Regions from separate parts of the Homo sapiens genome. Here region 2 is linked to region 1. The links come from fine-mapping of genetic effects on gene expression. Tissue or cell type: whole blood. Region 1 holds a variant in brackets; the other region holds the start of a gene. All regions are shown on one strand. Distances are from middle to middle.

Region 1 (8,411 bases):
AGGGCCCGACTTATGAGCTGAAGTTTTGGCCCTTTGTGTTTCAGTATGGCTGTACCGCATTACATTATGCCTGTGAAATGAAAAACCAGTCTCTTATCCCTCTGCTCTTGGAAGCCCGTGCAGACCCCACAATAAAGAATAAGGTAAGGGAGGGTGGACCGTGGTCTGAGGTTCCTCTAGCAGCAGCATCTTCTAATCTAGGCCTTATGTTGAAGTAAATTATTTGCCTCTGACGTAAACAACAGTAAAATTAATCATCCTCATTAAGGAATGAAGTTATCCTATTACTATTAGGACTGATTGCCTTTTAAAGCCCTTGCCAACACAGAGAGTCAATTGGTCTAAGCTACGTACGAGATCTTGGGCACTCTATTGGAAATAACTGTATATTTTTCCCCCCTCAGCATGGTGAGAGCTCACTGGATATTGCACGGAGATTAAAATTTTCCCAGATTGAATTAATGCTAAGGAAAGCATTGTAATCCTTGTGACCACACCGATGGAGATACAGAAAAAGTTAACGACTGGATTCTATCTTCATTTTAGACTTTTGGTCTGTGGGCCATTTAACCTGGATGCCACCATTTTATGGGGATAATGATGCTTACCATGGTTAATGTTTTGGAAGAGCTTTTTATTTATAGCATTGTTTACTCAGTCAAGTTCACCATGGCCGTAATCCTTCTAAGGGAAACACTAAAGTTGTTGTAGTCTCCACTTCAGTCAGAAACTGATGTTTCAGCTAGGCACAGTGGTACATGCCTGTAATCCCAGCTACTTGGGAGGCTGAGGTGGGAGGATCACTTGAACTCAGGAGTTTGAGAGCAGCCAGGGCAACACAGCGAGACCCTGTCTCAAAAAAAAAAAAAAAAAAAAAAGCCCTGGTGTTCCAAACTCAGTCTTTCCTGAAGAAGAGGATCTGAGTTATCTTCTGAAACAGCGTTCTCCCTTCCCAGTTGTATCACTCTTATAAAAAGACTGTCCAGTCTATGTCATGCCCTAGGAGACAAACTGTTCCTCCCAGCCCCCTTTGAGTATTGAGCAGAAGAATCAAATTATTAAATACGTATGTTTGTACAGAATGGTATTTGTGTATGTGTGTGGGCTTAGAGATTCACAAGTAAATATTCCTTTGGTGAAGGAATTTCAATAAAAACATCTATCAAGTGTCAGCGGTGAGTGTGTTTACACCACAGAAATTGGCAAATTGACAAATCAGAGTTTGTTTTTGTTTTTTTGTTTTTTACTTTCCATAAAGTTCGTTTACCAGCATACCACTAGAGATTTCGGTTTACAAATAAAAGCCATCTTGGTTTGAGCAAGACTATGCAACTATGAAAATGTTCGTTTAAAAAAATCTTCATGATCCTTTTGTAAATACAAGGTGGTTGCCAAGCTTGTTAGTTTTGTTTATTTTATTGATAGATGTAAAATATTATTGTAACTTATTTGGATAAAGTTCTTCAAAAGAAACAGAGCTATACAATGAGGTAGGATCTGGATTATTTGTCTAAGTGAGAGATTGCGAATATCAAAATATCTGTCTCACTTCTTCTGTGAATGACACAGAGTAGAAATAAATTCACTTTAAAAATATGACTGAATTTTGAAAATCAAGACTGAATCTCACATAGCTGCAGACAGGAACTAAGCCAGCCTCTTTGTATGTGGTAACAAGTACAGTATAAGAATGAAAGATTTACCATCCTTGAAAGCTCTAATGAAAATCAAATCCAGCAATATATATTCAACTGTGTACAGGATTTAAGAAACTTATTTTATGAAGGAAGTAATAGTGTGTAGATATAGATTCTGAAGTCTTTAAACGTGTCTTAATAAATTAAGATTCACTGGCATTGAGCTGAGCTACCAGGTGACCCTTGGGGACAAAAAACCCACACAAGTGAATTTCACACACCAGTATACCTTCAACAATATACTTTTGACACACACAAACCTTTGATTTGGTTTCAGAGATTTTGCAAAATAGTACCAATGTAATTTACAACTGTCATCTTTGAAATTGTGTAAAAGTGGAATAATTTTCTGAAGAAATAAATCATGGTTTGTCAATGAGTTGCAGAGACTGTCTGACATTAACTTTGTCAAGATTAAAGGATAAAGTATATGACAATTTGTTTCATCATGCTCATGACATTATGCAATTTTCTCCCTAGCTTTTAATTTTTGGAGGCAGAAAATTGAGCCAGAAATTTTTAGTCATTAGGTCTCCTAGCAACAAGCTGTAAACCTTCCAACAAGCTTGGACTAGAATCTAGACACTGAAATGCACATACATGCTTTATGTAATGCAGAATGCATTTATTGGAGAACTCATAAACATCCTATAAAATTTTCTTCCCTGAGATGCAACTATAAAACTTGGCCTTATTCTGAGAATGCTTAACATAGATTTCATCCATACTGTAACACTGATTTTGTTGTTGTTGTCCTTAAAGCAGCTCAGCTTCCTGAGGTAGTGTTATGTCTCTGTGGCAACAAGGTGAAAATGTCTAGCTTATTTTGTCAAAGTCAACAATAATCCACAGACTCCAGACCTCAATATCTGTCCCAATTTGCCATTTTACTTTAGTGCTCCAAAAATATGGCTTATAGAAAAAACAATAGGTGTTTTAAAGAGATTTACCTGAATGATATAGAGAATGTCTAGATATTTTCTGGCTATCAGGTAAAACCTACCCTTCAAGATGGTAGAATATATAATAGCATACAAAACCTCTATTTACCTAATAAGTACTTTAATTTACAGAAAAAAAATGTAAATGTAAGTGTCGGATTTAGTGCCAAGTGCAGGGAATCTGAAAAATGTATACTAGGTCTCTGCTCTCCGTAATTCTGCCTTCATGGGTCCTAGCCCCATCCCTCAGGAGGTTGTCCTAAGATCGTCAGTGTCAGATGCTTCACAATACGGCCTCACACCGTCCCTGGGAAAGGTTGGTCTCCTCCTGCTGCATCAGATGGATGATTTCATTGTACATACGGTGAGGAGCATCCAAACCCCAGATGAAATCCACGTGAGCCCATTCAGGAATATTCTTATGGTAGATGAGGTTGGTCACCTCAGAGAGCAGCATTTTCACGTCTTCTGGATTTGAAAGCCAGTCCTGACCTCCTGTCCACATTGCTGTAGGGACCGTCATATCTCTGACTCTGTACCTTACAGGAGTTGGCTAGAGAAAAGGAATAGTTCTTAACTCTAGGTAACATTTGGACTTTCAGGCTCATAATTTATGTTTCAAATAGACATAATAAACATGCCATCTGTTGTGGTGAAGGGTACATGGGTGTTAGAGCCACACAACTCTGTTAAGAATTTCTGTTCCCGCCCTTACTTTAAGGTAAAATTACTTAACATTATTGAACCTCAGTTTCTTCTTCTGTGACTGGGGATAATATCTGTAATAACTTGCTAGATCAAATGACAAAACACATAAAAACATGTAATGCCTTGTATTTCTTTTTTCTTCCTATTAAATATTTTGTAAA[T/C]AAATTGTTTTTAAAAATAATGCCCCTGTTCTTTTAAAAGATAATTTCACAAACATTTCATGAAAGAAGAATTATATTCCACAGAGAAAAGCAAGGAATCTGCTGGGAAGGGCTCTGCATCTTCACAGTCTTTATGTGATCCCAGGCAGCCTTTGAGGCAGACCCGGCTTGACTGCATTTGCCAGAACCATGGCCTATGGCACTCAGGTAATTTGAGCTAAAGGGAAGTAAAAGTTAAATACCTGCTCCAATCCTTATTCCTCACCCTTCCCCACCAAATATACCAATTAGTATTCCTAATACCTGGGAACTTTCCGTATTTATGCAGTGTTAGTAGAATTAGCCTAGCCGGCTGAGCCCTTGAGATTAATCAGCATCCAGAACTTTCCTCAGAAGTGGTAAGGCCCATTTCTTACTCAGGAAATCCACCATGGAGTCTTGGCTCCAATCCTAGATGCTCTGGTTTCTCTTTGTGGCTCAGTTATGGCCTAATTTGGATAAGGAAGGTTGAAAAATTCTATGGGGCTAGTAATTTTTTTTGTCATCTTACAGGTGAAAAGATTGAACTGAATGTCATATCTCGCTCTGAGTTTCTGTGATTCTATGATTTTTTTTGTGTGTTTGTTTACTCTTCCCTTCCACTCCCATTTTCTGGTGCCTATTCTGCATGAATCAATTTCTCTAGAACTCAGTCCATTAAATGTTGATAAATTAAAGCCATCTTAGGGCCGGGCACAGTGGCTCACGCCTGTAATCCCAGCACTTTGGGAGGCTGAGGTAGGTGGATCACTTGAGGTCAGGAGTTTGAGACCAGCCTGACCAACATGGTGAAACCCCATCCCTAAAAGTACAAAAAAAAAATTAGCTGAGCATGGTGGCGTGCACCTGTAGTCCCAGCTACTCGGGAGGCTGAGGCAAGAGAATGGCTCAAAGCTAGGAGGCAGAGTTTTCAGTGAGCCGAGACTGCGCCACTGCACTCCAGCCTGGGTGACAGAGCAAGATTCTGTCTCAAAAGTAAATAAATATAATTAAAAAAACATCTTTGAACAGAAATACTTTCTCTAAAGACATATTTTGGGAAACAGTGAAGAAAGACTTCAAGAGAAGCAGCTGATACCAGAGATTGAGAGTTCACTATCCAGGGGCACTGCACAGTTTGTCCAGTTTCCTAGCATTTTACATCTAGATAGACATATGGCAGCGGATGTTAATTTATGATGTGAGGGTCTCAAAGAAAGACTAAGCTGTGTCTAATCTGCCCCTTCCAGTATTGTTTCTATGGTAAATATTTATTTACATTCATACACATGATTACCAAAAATCTTCAGAAGATTTTATGTTCTAAAGGGCATACCTGTGCAATTCTGAATCTCCACACTTTGATATCTAATTTTAGTTCATAGCATTAGCTACATATTTTCTTGGGTAATGTAATAACATTTTTAAAAAATGTAACTTGCAAATTACAGATTCATTTAAAGTATAACTAGGGAGAATGCCTATGGATTTTCTAAGCCCAAAATTTTTATTTTCAAGGTAAAGAAATTGAAGCCTGAAAAATTAAAGCAGCCTCCCTCCTATTACAGAAGTTTATAGTGCAGAGGCAAAACTTACACAGCAATCCTCACTTGCCATTTAATGTTCCTTTTACTGTGCCATGAAACAAACTTACTGCCACCATCCCATTTTTTTTAATTCTAAAATAATCCTTCTAGTATCCACCATAGACTACACTCTTCTCTTGACTAAATCTACTTCATCTTGCTCCTGAGAAGCCCAGTACCTTGTTTAGGGAGACAGCCTCAGCTAAAAAGGCCTCCTACTCCATTGTAAAAGCAGAGAGGTTTCTTGGATCAGCTGTGAACTTAACCATTTTCAAATGGAGTCAAACATGAACCATTATTTTCTGCTTAAATTTTCATATTTTATTCCCATATCTAGAATAAACTGTCATTATAACGTCCCTGTCATACATTTCCAATGTATATATTTTCAGCAGATGGTATTTGATTTTCTTACCTGATTGCATTTTTCCAGATTTTTGGTCTCACTCCCCCAGTCAAATGCCCGGAGTTCACCAGAATTCACTGCCTAAAAGGAGACAAAAATTTACAAGGAATTCCAACGTCTCAGTGGATAAGCGTGGTGGGGTGGTGGAAATGTGCTACCCAGTGTGCACTCATGAGGGAAGGAGAGAGCAATGGTTGAGCTGCTCTTCCATTCAATGTTGGGATAAGCGTCTCAGGAAAATGGTAAGACAAGAATGAGGCCTTTTGAGAAGAAAGAGGGACTACATAAATTCTTGATCATTGCATTAGCAACTCCAGGAAGTGCATCTTCATTGTAATTAATGTGAGTGGGTATCCTCCACAACTGTGTGGGCTACAATGGGGAATCGTGCCCTGGAATTGTGCAATGTGGTGATCCTGGAAGATAGCAACCAAAATTTAATTGAACTTATAATTCTTCTCTGGTTTTGATGGTACAATTGCTCTCTCTCTCTCTGTCTCTCCCTACCTGTCAACAGAGAGAACTCTCTCCTTCCCCCATCCCTCTCTTTCACACACACCACATAGACACACAGAGGTGTGTGTTTCCTGTAATTGCAGGTAAAGTTTGCAGTGTGAAGGACTCCTGTGAATATCTCTTTTGACAGACCCCACATTAGCATTTTTGTTTCTACTTGACTGTATTGTTGGAGGAGCTGAAGAGAAGATGTAGAAACATAATTATCTCCAGCCACATCTTTGAGGTGTCTAGAGACAGAGAGAAGTCTCACTTGGATCATCTAAATTCATACTTTTAAGATCTAAAGAAGTTCTTAGGCTACTTCTGTCCTTTCTTCCCATTTCTTGAAAAGTTTCAGTGATCTAGATCAAATTCTCCATCAAAATAGCATCGACGATACTGCATTTCATCTTAGAATAAGTGTGAAATAATCCCTGGCTTATCTAAATGGTGTCCTTTGACTATTCTACACAAAATATAACAGGACATTTAGCAAAGACTGCAAATTCAACATTCTTACCTGGCTCCAGTGTAGAATATTTTGCACAGATGTTCCAGCAAGAGTGTGGGCAGCATATACACTTGCTCGGCTCTGTAACAAACCATGAGTATTCTGGGGGACATAGAAAAACTCACAAGATGTATACCCTGTCAAGACCAAATCTCCAGGGTGTCAGACTAAGAAATGGTAACATTATTAAGTTATCAGCAATTATCTATGAAACAAAAATATGTACATGCACGTAAATAAAATGTCATTAAATGTATTGCCAGACACCGGTATTTTTCATCTGAGAATAGGTTCTCATCAGAGATCTGGCCCCTAATTAAAAAAAATTTTACTAGTGATATTTAGGATGAGGGCTCTAGCATTGGGCCTGTATTCAAATCCTAGTTCTGCAGTTTAATTTTTAGGTGAATTTGAGTGAGTCACTTAATCTACTAAATCTTAGTATACTAATCTGCAAAGTGGGGATATTAATAACACTCATAGGCTTGGTATAGGTAATAAATTAGCCTGATACATAATATATACTTTTCATATCCTTACTATAAATCAAATTATTAATCTTAAAGAAGAAGAAAAAATATTCAGAATTAAGGAAATGTTGCCCCAGCTGCTGGGAGTGCTGCTGGCAAACAGCCCTCCACTCTCAGTCTGCTTTGAGGATTGCACCAATTGTAGGCAGATACATTGCCCAGTGCTACCCTGTTACTGGTATGGCTACATTAAATGACTGACTGATATGGTGTATAAAGACCCAACCCTCTCTTCCTAACTTGAGACGGTTCTGAAGGGTCATCCTATCTTCAAAAATCCCTGCAGGATCAACTAAGTCTCCTATTGAGACTGCATCACTACTTGACTTTTTCACCTACCTAGTCCTGTTTCTTTTCCTTCTCTAGGTATTATCCCTAGAGCAGGACCCAAATCATTGTTCACATTAACCTCCATCTCAGAGTATGCTTCCTAGGGAACCCACCCAGTGATACCAACTGGTAGCCTAAGCCAAAATGAAGGTCCCTGATGTTCCATCAAAGAACTTAAACTACAAACCTACAGGACCCCAGTGCAGGGTAGAGGTGGATGATGCATGACAGTTGTCTCTGTTGTCTAACATGTGCTAATTGCTCTTTTTAATTTAATTCACTGTAGTAAAGCTGCTTTCAGACCTCTTCCATCTATAATCTGTGATTTAATATCAGCAATGCCCTTATGTTAACCTTGTTTCAGTCCATACTGAAGCATTTCCCTTATTTCCTTACAGTTTGCAGAGAACTGAGTTACTGAGAATATATCATTACTCTGAGTCTTCACTGGCATTAGCTCTCCCTCCAGGGGTGAGCCATATGACTCCCAGCTTTATGCTGGGATGCTGGGAATTTACTAGGCTCCCACTTACCATGTTCATATTGTTGGTGTTGAATCCACCCAGAAGTAACATGATATTACTACAAATCTGATCAAGAATCACCTGGCCACAAAGGTAAATAACAAGTTGTCTGAGAAATCTGGTCTGATACAGAAATTCTTTTTTGCCAAACAATCCCTGTGAAAATATGAAGTGACATAGACATGACAGACAGAAAAGATGTGACTGTAATTTAAAAGTTTATGTTTTAGGAAATTGGGCTGGAAGATTTTTCTACGTACACAGGAAGTTTTCTGAGGAGTCTCATACCTTGATCATCATATCTGGCAGCAACAAAAATTTGGTCCCGGGGCTTTTTGCATGCTTAACAGTGGCTATGGGTGCTAAAGCAAAATACATTTTGATTTTCTGAGCCAGCTCTGGCATGGTGGAAAATGCAATAAAGCCTGCAAAAGAAGAAATATGTCAACATGAATACGAAATATTTTTAGAACTCATAAAATGTATATTTTGCTTTTAAAT
Region 2 (7,137 bases), 34 kb before region 1:
GCAAGACAAATAGATCTCCACACCAATACACCCCAGACCCCGGGCTTATATATCATAAGGAAAGGGGATACATGCTCTATAGAGACAATTAAAGACAACCCCCCAGAACAGGCAAGAGTGCTGTGTGCATCATAACCTATATTTGTGTGATAACATCAAGTTTGCTTTGGTCTAAAGGCAGGATTTACAGTAAGTATGTGTTCTTACACTAAGGACAGTAAATAAAGTAGGAATCCGAAGGCATTTATGGGACTGGGGTTAATGAGAAGTCAACATGGTGGATTAGCATCCAAGATGAAGTTAATTTTGTCTCCACATACCAGTAGGAAAAAAAAAAAGCTAGCTTGCAGAATGCCAGGGTAGGCATTGAAGAACCAAACATAGAAAAGTGTGTTCAATGCTAGGAGATAGCTTAATAACTCATAGTTGGCAAAGTCTGTTATTTCTACCTCCTAAACTCTAGAGTTTATCCTATTCTCTCTATCCACACTGCTGCTCTTCTGCCCCAGGTAACTATTATCATGCAGCTGACCTAATGCAATAACCTCCTAACTAGTTGCTGTTTCTTTTTTCCTGCCTCAGATCCACTCTCTGTACAACAGCCAGAGTGAGCTTTATTATATAAATAAAATTCTGATTACAACACTCCTCTACTCAAATCTCTCCAATGGGAGCCAATTTTACAGTAAGTAGCTAGTCAGACATGAGCAGAGTAGGAGAGGGCTCCCCCCACCCACCAGGAATGTCAGGTGAACATCAGGTGATAGTAAGGAGGTTGTTAACCGTCTCTCTAAAATAATAGTTGAGGGCCAGGCGTGGTGGCTCATGCTTGCAATTCCAGCACTTTAGGAGGTCGAGGTGGGCAGATCACCTCAGGTCAGGAGTTTGAGACCAGCCTGGCCAACATGGTGAAACCCCGTCTCTACTAAAAATACAAAAATACAGGTGGCAGGTGTCTGTAATCCCAGCGACTCTGGAAGCTGAGGCAGGAGAATCGCTTGAACCTGGGAGGTGGAGGTTGTAATGAGCTGTGATTGTACCACTGCACTCCAGCCTGGGCAACAGAGCAAGACTCCATCTCAAAAAAAAAAAAATTATATATATATATATATATATATATATATATATAAAATAACAATTGGTCACAGCCAGTGCCAGGGAAAGGCAGTCTCCCAATAGACAGAAAAAACTTGAAACTGGTGATCAGCAGCTTCCTGATAAGATCTCAGGAGTTGGGCGAGTGGGTTCAAGCATGCACATTAAGAGGCAGAATGGCAGAGTTTAACTGGTATATTACCTTCTAGGGACATTCAGCTGGTAAGAGAAGAGTGCTTCAAGTAAGCATGCATACAACTCCAGTAAACACACTGTGCATGCTCCCCTCCCAAATCCTGGTGGGCCACTGCACATGTGGACAGCCCACCAAAGGGCAGAATCAGGGGAGAAGGAATGCAGGACCCTGGAAGTATGCCAACGTATAAAAACCCCGAGTCAAAAGTCAAACTGCACACTTGTCTTTCAAGTTGCCCACTTGGTCCTCTTCCAAATGTACTTTACTTTGTTTATTCCTGCTCTAAAGCTTTTTAATAAACTGTCGCTCCTGCTCTAAAACTTGCCTTGGTCTCTTCTTCCATCCTATGGCCCCCAGTTGAATTCTTTCTTCTGAGAAGGCAAGAATTGAGTTTGCTGCAAACCCACACAGATTCACTGCTGGCTGGTGACATATTTTGGTGCCGTGTGACTCAGATAACTTCCACTGCTAATGTCAATGTTGGACAATGTTAGATAATGTTGAAGGATTAAGATATCAGCGTAAAACTGAGTTTCTGTGGACTATACTTCTTTGTTATGCTCTACTGAACCCCTCTTGGGGGGAAGTCTTTGGGATACACCTTACAAGAGACTCATCTCTCACAGACAGTTGGCTGCTGGTCAGTGGAGGTTGGCTGCATTTACAGCCAGGATCAAAGGATGCCACTAATTTTAAGTCCCTAGTGTTTAATTCAGATTAAACACTAGGTTTATTTCTTGACAGAAGACATTTGTCTTCTTGACAGTGTTATTTCTTGACAGAAGACATTTACCTGTGAAAGCTGTTTTCTGGAACTTCTTTTCTTTACCTGTCTTTGTAATTATAGGCTCAAAATTGCCAGAGGAAGAACCCTAAACACTTAAAAATATATCTGTTTATCCAACTTCATTCTGACAATATGCCTCCGTATTCCAATTTGACACTATAGTTTACGAAGTCCTCTTCCTTCACCTTTAATTCTCCTTTTGGCTTAGACTAGAGTTTCTCTACATTAGCACTCTTCTGAGCTGGGTAATTCTTTGCTCTGAGAGGCTGTCCTGTGCACTGTAGGATGATTAGCAGCTTCCCTGGCCTCTGCTCCCCACATTAGAGTACCATGCTCCCACTCCTAGTTGTGACCACCAAAAATGTCTCCAGACATTGCCAAATGTCTTTAGTTTCCAATAAAACGACGTTCTCCATTAAGCAACATAATTTTTTAGTGTATGTATGTCCCATATGACATTTCAGAAATTTATCTGAAATTCAAATTTAACTGAACATCTTATCTTTTTCGTTGCTAAATCTGCAGTCTATCTGGGGGCGAGATAACCCCTGGTTGAGACCCAATGGCCTAGAGTTAAATCCAAGTGTTTTACAAATAACAATGAGTCAACTGCTTTTTTCATTGGTTTGTTTTTTGAGCTAACCCTACATCATTTGCAATTATAATGAGTACTGTTCCTTTAGAACCAGATGTTGTCAAGAGATGCAGAATCTAATAAAATGAGTTTTGATCCTGATTGAAAGTTAAAGAAACATTTAGAGCTCAGTCAGGGAGGAAAGAGCTTGAAGAAGAAAGCTAGCAGCAACCTTAGGAGAGAAGCAATGACAGTGAAGAGTTCTGTCCACACAAATTAGTTGAAAGAGGTTACAAAAGAGGCTACCAGAGGTTACAAAATATTGCATAACAGAGTGAAGTACCCAATGGATATACCATTAATGTTTTTCTAAGTCAATGGGAAGACACTTAAATGTCTTAAGAGTCTACAGAAATACAAAATCAAACCAAGCCAAAGAGGAAGTCAGCTGCAATTTTAGTGGGTATTGCAGACTTCCCTCTCCTCCAACGGAAGAATTAGCTAATTCTTAAACTCCAGAGAGGCTGGCCTCGATGTCAACTGCATAGTGAAACATAAAATCTTTGAAATAATTATAAAAATAGCTCAGTATATCCACCAGTGGAGTAAGAAGAATTTCCCTGAATATTTATAAGCACAGGCCTAGTATCCTGGTCACTAGTTTCTGGCCACTAAGGAGCCTCAACTGATTGGGAAAATCACATCAATTGGTTTGAGATGGTTGAACTATTTCTTCCATGATATTATTGAGCAAATAGGCTTGCTGCCCCCTGCTCACAGAAGCCAATATCTGGACACTGGGTTTTGAGGAAAGAAAAACTTTATTGCAAGACAGGTCAGCAAGGAGACAGGAGGTGGGCTCAAATCTGCCTCCCCAGTTTGGAATCTGAGAAAATGTATGGCTTAGAGGGTGAGGGAAAGGATTTAGGAATGTTGGTTTGGCAGGGACTGATTGAAGGGCTTCAAATTTGACCACTAAAGGTAAGGTATGTTGAGGCAGATTTCAGCCCTGGATCTTTTGGGCCAATGAGCCCCTAGCTTCTGAAAGAGGTCCTGCATTTAGGTTCCCGTCATGTCCTTGTCTTCTTGGTTCCCAGGGGAGGGATCATTTGTTCTAGGTTCTGTTAGAGGCAAAAACATTTTTATTGTGCATGCCTGGGCTAAATGACTTACAGTTTTTGGCTCTGTTATATCTACAGAGTAAATTGACATTTGTTATCAACAAAGTACGGCCCATTTGGGCTGGTCCCATGGTTATAATGGGTGTGTGGACGGTCGAGTGTTTCAATTCTGGGAAAGTTTGATGTGATTGTATTCAGTTCAAGGAAAATGTGTGAATGATATCATATATAGCATATAAAATGTTTACAATATTTAAGAGATTGGGCATACTAGCATGTTTGATAAATAAATTGATGATGCAATTTAAAATGCATAACAGAGTATTTGATTTTAGACTTATGATTTTTAAATTGAATATTATAAAGTAATTTGGCTAAATGTGTGAATAGTATTGGAATATTTAAAACAACTTAAGATTTATTATGTTAGTAAATTTATTAGTTTACAAAACTGCATAAATAGCTGGAAAAGCGTTACTTGTTAGGCTGAGAATTTTGAAGATTATTTTTCAAGTTCTTTGCCAGACACGTGTGGCTCTCACAAGTAAGTTTGTTGGTCTCTAGCCTTTCTCAATGGCCACTGAAAACCAGATTTTGATTACGAAATGTCTGAAATACAGTATCTTGGTTTGAACCGTGAGTCCTTCCTGCCAATGTAAGAACTTTTCTTCCTCCCTTAACTTTGCTTCCTTCTTTCCTGCATGTTACCACTGGCAGAGCAAATATGACTCAGAAACCGGCTCCTCAGGGTTGTAACATTAGATGATACAGGCTTGGGTCGTTACACATGACACCAGTGCCTTTGTTTCATTGGGCTGGGCTCTCTGGAAGGTGTGCTGCTGCCTGAGCTGCTGGAAAAGCACTGACAGGTGTTTGCTAGAAAAGCACTCCTGGAGCTTGCCACCAGCTTGGACTTCTAGGGACTTTCCTCTCAGCCAGGAAGGATTTTGATATTCATCAGAAATACCTCCAGAAGATTCAAGGAGCTGTAGAGGTGAAGTAAGCCTGTGAAGGACCAGCATGGGAATCCTATACTCTGAGGTACATCACCTTTCTGAAAGCAGAGTTCCAAAGATGTTAAAAGTTACTCATGCTTTTCAGATGCAATTTTCTATCCCTGTTAATATATTTCTGTTTTGTCTGTTCAACTCCCTGGGGGAGCATTAAGTCAGAAAAAATAAAGTCCTATGTGTTATTCTTGTTGATATTCTTAATAGTTTAAGACAAAGTATTTTGTAATTCTAAAATATTAGCTAGATCTAAGTTGAGATGAATATAATACACATTTCATAGTATCTGGATGTTTGCAAGGATAATTTGGACAAAATCGAGTTTGAGTTGTGCTTTTCTCATGACAAACACTCAGAGAAAAAGAGAAAATTGTACTCAATTGGATTTTCTAAATATCCAAAAGATTGACTGCCTCTTTTATGGAACCACATGACCAGAGTAATGCCTTTCAGCTTGGTATTTGAAGGGAGATTCACCTTTAGTAAATATTAGTAAAGACTATCACTATGAAGAAGAGGAATAATAACATATTTTGATGATTTGATTATTTTCTTTTCACATCTGATAAATACTGAGGTACTTTTACTTGTATTGGAAGTAACTTATTAGAATCAAATGGATTTTTAATGATGTTTCAAGAAAGTACAAGCAAGGAATGTTTAGACAAGAGTACAAGAGGTGTAATGATGTCATTATACATAATTTACTCTCTCTCTCCTCTGACACAATTAACTGGTTAATCTGCATTTCATTGCAGATGCTCAGGGGAACCTTCTTGGATAGTTTTGATCTAGTATTAAAGACAGTTTATTTGCAGTTATTTCTAATGCCATGTGTGTATATATCTCTCCGTGTGTGCAAATGCAGTGTTTGATTGGTTTATAACTCTAGGTATGTCTTGCTCAGTGATTTTAGCCTCATGAAGGGATCATATACATGAAAATGACAAAACATATAGTGCTTTTAAATGCTACTCTGGTAACTCTCAAACTTTAGACTGCCCAAGTGTCAGGGAGAGAAGTTTGTTTGAAATGCAGTTTCAAGGGACTCCAACCCAGAGAGTCTGTTTCACTCAGTCTATGGTAGGATACAAAAGTATACTTTTTAAAAGGAGCATCCCAGGTGGTTCTGACATAGGGGTGATCTGTTTACCACCATCCTGAGAAAGAAAGACTGCCACAGGCCAGTGCTTTCCCGTTTTTAATGTCTATACAGATCTTCTGAAGGTCTTGTTTAAATGCAGATTCTTAGTTTGTAGACCTGGGTGGGACCTAAGATTCTGCATTTTGGTTGCTTTTTCAGATTGCATGTGGGAATTATATGTGATTTGGAAAAAGGAAAAAAAAAAGCCTAGTCTCATCCTCAGGTATTCTGATGTAGAAAGTTGGAAGTAGGACCTTTCATCTATAGTTTTAAAGAGTTTGAGACTCTTTAAAATTAAATAGTAATCTCTTAAATATTTAAACATAGCCTACTCATTTGTAATATATCATTTGCTCTGTGTTTCCTAAGGATAAAGATTGTGAGCTACTCATTAAGGACAAGAAAAAAGCCTGCTGGATCCCTGGTCCTATGTTGCCTGGAAGAATCTATTCAAAAAAAAAAAAAAAACTTCCCCCAATTTGAGTGCGGGAAGCTCCTCTAGATTGGGGACATAGGGTTATCATTTTTCCTTAGAGCTTTGCAGTGCTAATAGTTATGCAATATATATTTTTAAGAAAGAAGGAGAGAATGAGGGAGGATCCCAGAGAGCTGGTCCTGAAATCTGCACTAGAGGATAAGCTTAGAGCTCAGTGAGAGGCCCTAATTTTGAATAAGTAACTCCAACTGCGTAAGATGGACTTTTAAACAAGGCTGATTCATTTAAACCCTTATCAAAGGTATTTGTTCATAATATTTACAATAGCAACAAACATGTATTTAGGGCTTCTTATAGATTAGGCCCTATTTTAAGCACTTTATATATGTATTAACTCATTTAATACAGCAATCTTGTAAGAGTCACTTTTAGTATCCTTATTTTACAAATGAAGAAACTGAGGAAAAGGTAGTCACTGGCTCATAGTTACACAGTTGAAAAGTGCTTATTGGCTGGAGATTGGTGGCTAGGATGAGTCCTGTGTTTACTCATTCAAAGAGATTCTTCTTACATCACTGCTGAACTACTAAATTTTTCTACTACTTGTTATTTCAACAGATATGTCATGCTCCATAAGAGAATTGGTCTTAACCACTCTGGTGTTCTGCCACTGTTCTAACCAGGATGGTGCCCTGTTCCCTTAGTGGAAAGAATGAGTAAACTAAATCCAGGTCCAATGAGGTACATTCTACTGCTACCTTGCAACAGAGAACT

What was found. PIP is the estimated chance that this variant, and not a neighbour inherited with it, causes the effect.
Region 2: it holds the start of ANKRD22, and the variant in region 1 is fine-mapped to the expression of ANKRD22 in whole blood (TOPMed, PIP above 0.99).

The regions. Positions count from the first base shown.
Region 1 is chr10:88,815,012-88,823,422 of GRCh38, reverse strand. It overlaps LIPM (lipase family member M), which reads right to left. Exons shown (of 9, transcript NM_001128215.1): 5 at 8,199-8,335; 6 at 7,920-8,066; 7 at 6,536-6,607; 8 at 5,527-5,598; 9 at 2,877-3,191. The coding sequence ends at 2,922. It overlaps ANKRD22 (ankyrin repeat domain 22), which reads left to right. Exons shown (of 6, transcript NM_144590.3): 5 at 45-143; 6 at 405-3,527. The coding sequence ends at 482. Among named protein-coding and RNA genes, the nearest start is that of LIPM, 16 kb to the right of the region's middle. The variant T/C (reference allele first, on the strand shown) is at 3,508.
Region 2 is chr10:88,849,264-88,856,400 of GRCh38, reverse strand. It overlaps ANKRD22 (ankyrin repeat domain 22), which reads left to right and starts at 4,557. Exons shown (of 6, transcript NM_144590.3): 1 at 4,557-4,814. The coding sequence starts at 4,794.